Linked DNA regions of Homo sapiens: region 2 is linked to region 1. The links come from fine-mapping of genetic effects on gene expression. Tissue or cell type: pancreas. Region 1 holds a variant in brackets; the other region holds the start of a gene. All regions are shown on one strand. Distances are between the middles of the regions.

What was found. PIP is the estimated chance that this variant, and not a neighbour inherited with it, causes the effect.
Region 2: it holds the start of AJAP1, and the variant in region 1 is fine-mapped to the expression of AJAP1 in pancreas (GTEx, PIP 0.90).

What each region holds. Positions count from the first base shown.
Region 1 is chr1:5,390,011-5,392,688 of GRCh38, reverse strand. No RefSeq gene overlaps it. Among named protein-coding and RNA genes, the nearest start is that of LINC02782, 290 kb to the right of the region's middle. The variant T/C (reference allele first, on the strand shown) is at 1,454.
Region 2 is chr1:4,653,121-4,655,798 of GRCh38, reverse strand. AJAP1 (adherens junctions associated protein 1) reads right to left here and starts at 1,190. Exons shown (of 6, transcript NM_018836.4): 1 at 345-1,190. The coding sequence starts at 373.

The sequences.
Region 1 (2,678 bases):
AGCCATTTGGCAGTGAGTGCCTTTGAATCCAATAATAAAAACTGGAGGTTATCTTTTGTATGACTACTTGTATGCGGACTTGTATTTCACTTATCTAGGGATTAATGTTTTCAAAAATGTTTTAAGAAGTGTTGGTCTGTGGCAGAGAGCTCCTTCCCCTTGGGTAATTGGTGAAGCCGGGCTCTGGAGAACCCTCAGGCCTGGGGTTTGCAGCTTGTCAAAGGAGCATCCGTCCACCCCCATAAGCTTCCAATTCATTCTCTTGCTGGCGTCCCTGAGGCTGAAGACGGGAATGGAACAAGAGGGAGGCGCCAGGTAGGAAGCCAGCATCTTCAGAAAGGCGGGGGCATCTGACATTTTCAGAAAAGGGGGCACATCTTGCATCTTCGGGAAGGTGGGCATATCTGGTGTGGCTTCACAGGAGAGCGTGGGGATTGGGAGACCACATCTGAGAATGCGTTTCCCTCCGCATGAGAACTGGCACTAGCTGGCATTTCTAGAGTACCTACTGTGTGCCAGGGGGTGTTTTAAGGCTCTAGATGCCCCTACGCATCTTATCCTTATGGCAATCCTTTCAGGTACGTAGGATGATTGTTGCTATTTTAAAGAATAAAACACAGATGTACAGACGTGAAGGAACCTGCCAGAAAGATGCACCAGGGCAGAACCAGGGGGAGACTCAGGAGCTGGACTCTGGAGCCCAACTGCTCAGACATCATGAGCCGTGTGTGTGTGTGTGTGTGTGTGTGCGCGCGCACGCTGTGATGCAGAGGTGCATGCATACATGTCTGTGTGCACACACATGTGGGTGTGCGCAGGTGTGTTCATGTATGTACACACATAAGTGTGTGCACATGCGTGTGTCTCTGTATATGCACATATGTAGGTGTATGCACGTATGTGTATATTTGCATTTATGTGTATACAGGCTACGTATACGTGAGTATGCATGTGTGCCCCTGTGCACTCGCGCGTGGGTGTGGGAGTGCATATGTTTGTGCACACTGTGTGCACACTGTATTTGTGAGGGGAATGAACCTGGCCATACAGTAAGAAAGGTGCAGACTCCCTTAACCATGTCCTCTCTGGGCTCCAACCCCATGGGCTCCAGGTCTTTGGCCACAGCCCTCAAGGATGGTAAAGGGGCCCAGGGTGATGGTGCCAATGGTGGGTTCACACCAGGGATGCTTAGACTCCCTTTAAACCCCGGAGACAAAGAGAAGCTGGTTACCCATGCCTGGCCCCCTTGCCTCCTCAACGGAGGCTGAGGATGTCGCCCTCACGCTGCCTCAAGGGGAAGAAGCATGATAACCTAGGTGTCTGGCTCCGTTGCTGAGGATACAGGGAGTCACCATCAGAAGACTGATCGGCTTATCAGGGGCTTGTTCCCTGTGGCCAGCGAAGGAGACACCATTGCACTGATGTGTCTGGCACGCTCTTTATCTCTGCACAA[T/C]GGTCCATTGCTAAATAAAGCTCAGAGCTGTGCATTTCCTAGCAAAGAGGGAGCACCACGGCCAGATTCAATCAGCACTGCTCCCCTGAGCCCCGCGCAGGTGCATGATGAAGCAGCACCCCTCCGCATCCTCGCAGGGAACCCACCCCATCCCATCACATACCCCTCCTCCATGCCTCTGCAGGATCCTGCTTCTCAAAACAGTCCCGCCCCGGACCTAAATTTGAGGCTGCCCAGCCCAGAGGGTGCCCTGCCGTCAAGCGTCTGTCTGTTTGCCTTGAAGGAGAAGAATGGCTTGAAGCCCCTGATCCAGGCGTCTCCCTCCCACCCCAGTACCAGTCAGAACCAACACACGGCTGCGGCGTCCCTGCAAGGAGGCTTCCAGAGTCTTTCCTGCCCAGGGTAGGGAAACATATTTTCTTCCAGCTGTCTACAATTGCCTGAGCCCAGCATAGTCACCCACAGCCAGAAGCGGCACATCAGCTTTCTTCTGCTAATCACAGAATCACTCCTCCAGGGCAGCTGCCGGGCCTCAGGTGCTTGGGGTCGGGGCTGAGCTGAGTCATTCCCATATGTCTGATTCTTGCACATTTAAGACATGAGCAGAGGAACCCACTGCAAATGCTTCACTGAGAGACGGGAGTGAAAGACCTAGCTCCCTGGCTCTGGACCCCAAGTGATCTGGAGTAATTTCAACTTCAGGATCTATCATGTTACCAACCCCCACCAAAATTAGCACACACTCAGAGATCTGCAACTGAGGGTCCAAGACCTATTTTCTGGAGTTGCTGATATACATAAGAGTTGATATCAAACCATTTGTTGAATTGTGCTTTTGGGAAATACAGTCCTGGCTTGCAAAAATTTTGACTTCTGAAAAGAGGGGTTCTTTTCTGATTTTAGATGATTGCCTTTTCCTAGATGCTTAGTAATGTCTGGCTACCCCCACCACACCCAAAGGGTGACAGCTCCAGACAAAGCCTCTGTGTCCAGGAGCCTTCGTCATTCCCTGGGGATTTCTGGAGTTGAGCAGGACATTCGCTGGGACATCGTAGCCAGAGCACAGTGCGGAGGCAGGGCTGTGGCTGTGGGGGATCCTCTAACCCAGCGGGGGGCGGGGCAGGAAATAGGTCTCATCCCACCCCAAGGAGGGGCCACCAGGGTTGTCACCATGTCCCAACTTCAGGTTAAAGTGTTGGGCTCCAGTAGGGTCTTCAGGCTGGAC
Region 2 (2,678 bases), 740 kb after region 1:
CCCGGGGAGGAGGCGCGCCGGGGCAGCCGGCCAGGACACTGCGCTGCTGGCTCCTAGAGCTGCGGGCGCGCCTGGCCGGCCCCACTTCCCGGGTTGCTGGGGCGGGCGCCGCTGCCCCGACCCCGGACGCGCGGAACCCTGGAGACCCGGCCGCTCCCCGCCAGGGCCGCGGTGCTGCTCCAGGCTCCGGGCGGGCGCCCCTTTCCGGCTACCGGTGCACCCCGTTGCCCGCTTGCGGGAAGCGAAGAGGGGTCCCTTGATTTGCAACATAGAGGAAAGCGCCGCTTCCGCCCAGCCTGGCACCCACGCGCCCACACGCACCCGGCGCCGGCCGGGTCGCTCACCTGAGTCCTAAAAGCTGTTGAATCCACATGGTCACGTTTCGGGGAGCGGGGCCTCAGACCTGGCTCGCCCAGGCCATCTGCGCGGCGCCCGCGCCCGCTCGCTTCCGTCCCGCGGCGCCGGTCTCCGGCTCTCGGTCCGCCGCCTCCCGCCGCCCGCCGGCCGCGGGGCGCACAGCGAGTCAGAGCGCGGCCGCGCGGGGCTCCATGCCGGCCGGCGCGCCGCCGCCGTTGGGGCGCATGGCTCAGGCTGGGCGGCCCGCGGGGGCGCACATCCTCCGGCCGGGGCGCGGGGCTCGCGGCCCCCTCCGCCGGCGGCACAGCGAAGGCGGCAGCGAGGCGGGGCGTGTTCCGGCGCTGTCGCGGCGCAGCAAAGGGCTGGGGAGCCGCGGCTTCGCCCTCCGGGGCGGCGAGGAGGGAGGCCGGCGGCGCTGCCGCTCACGGTGCGTGTCTCCCGGCGCGCGGCTCTTGCCTCCAGCCGGAGCTCCGCGCCGATGGGGCGGCGCTGCTTAGGGTTTGGGGTGACGCGACGCGGACGGACGCGAGTCCCCTCCGCGCTGCCGGGTCGGGGGGCTCTGCCAGAGGCTCCGCCGCCGATCGGCGCCACTCAAGTTGCCCGGGGGCTCCGTCTGAGCGCTCGCTCTGCAGACGGCCGCGGCCCGGAGACTGGCAGGAGGCGGGCACGAGAGGCGCGCGGGGCGAGGGCGCCGTGGAGCGCGGGGCGTGGGGACGCGCGGCGGCGGCGCCGCGCGGAGGAGGCGCGCGGGGATCCCGGGGCCCCGCCGCCCGCGCCCACCGCGCCCGCCGCAGAGCCGCCCGCGCTGCTCAGCCGCCTCCCTCCTCGCGTCTGCCTCTCCGCGCGCTCGCCCCCGCCTCCCGGAGCCGGTCCCAACTCCGCCCGCCCGGCCCGGCTCACGTCACCCGCCTTCCCCGCCCCTCGAACGGGAGCTCGAGCCCCTGGCCTGGCCCCGGCTCCTGCTCGCCGCCCCACCTTGCGGGGGCCGGGGTCGCCGCGGGTGGTGGGGGGCGCTGTGCCCAGCAGGGGCGACAGCGCAGGCGGGGCCTCCTGCAGCCCCCTTCCCCATCCCCGGTCGCGTCCCGGTCCCCACCTTGCGAAAGGCTCGAGAGAGGCCGCAGGCTAGGATTGGACCGCCGGGCGCCGCCGGATGGTGTTGCCAGGGTAACCGGATGGCACGCGAAGCCGTTCGAGGTTCCGACCCGGTTACGGGGGCGCCCAGTGGACCCGGAGAGCTACTTTGGGGAGGGGGCGGCCCCGAAGAAGGACTGGGTGGGGGCGCATGGAGCGGGGGCTGCGCGAAAAGTTTCCTGGGGCGGAGCTGAGCCACGCGGGCCGCGCAGGAGCGTCTGTCCGAGGGTCGCCTACGAGGGACTCCTCTGCTCGGCTGCGCGGGCTTCTGCGTTGATGAAGTCACCGCGTTCCGGGTCGGAGCTTCGGCGCTTCTGCCCCGAACCCAGCGAAGCCCGGTCCTATGCCCCCAATTACCCAACGGTCCCTCATCGCCCAGCGCAGCTGCTGCCTGGCCAGGCCCTTGCTCCGGAGGAGTCACTGGAAAGTTCCAGGGAATCTGGGCCTCCCGGACTCTCCACCGGCGTTTCACTGCTCCCTTCCCATGCCAGGACTCCTCTGTGCCTACCTGGTTAGTCTGTATTTGCAAAAAACAAACAAAAACAACAACAAAAAACAAATGGGGGGCACTTAAAGGAGGACAGACGCTGGGCGGGGACCTTTCACTGAGAGAAGTGACATGGGGCGGAATCCTCTGCAGACCCGCTGACGCCTTGAGAAACCACGGCAAAACCCTGCTTTTAATCCTCCACAGGCTGAGGGCAGTGCAGAATCCGGGCCTTGGAAAGGACACTGGTGCCACCCTTCACTGGGGAAAGGTGCAAGGGGCGGGGGATATACCATGCCGAGCCTTCGCTCTGTGCTCTGTGCAGGTGCTTGACCCAGGCCAGCTCTGGAATCGCCCCAGGCCATGTGAGAGCCGTGGGGGGTGAGAGGGGCGGGAAGCACTTCACAGGTGAGGCCTCCCTGGGAGGGGCAGCCAGTGAGGGGGTGGAAGGGCAGAGCCAGGAGGACCATGGCTTGGGGCTCAGTCTCCCAGGCGAACCATAGCTTGGGGCTTAAGTCCCCCAAGCAGCCCTTTCACCCCCAGGCCTCCAGGATCTTTGCCAACGGTCTTGAGGAGCCAGGCACAGGATTGGACTCTGCCCGGGCAGGAGGATGAAGACAGTGACTTCCCCACCAAGACTCCCGGCAGAGGGCCAGAGGCAGGGAAGTGTGGTGGCAGGAGGGCCAGCCTTGCCGTGGCTGGA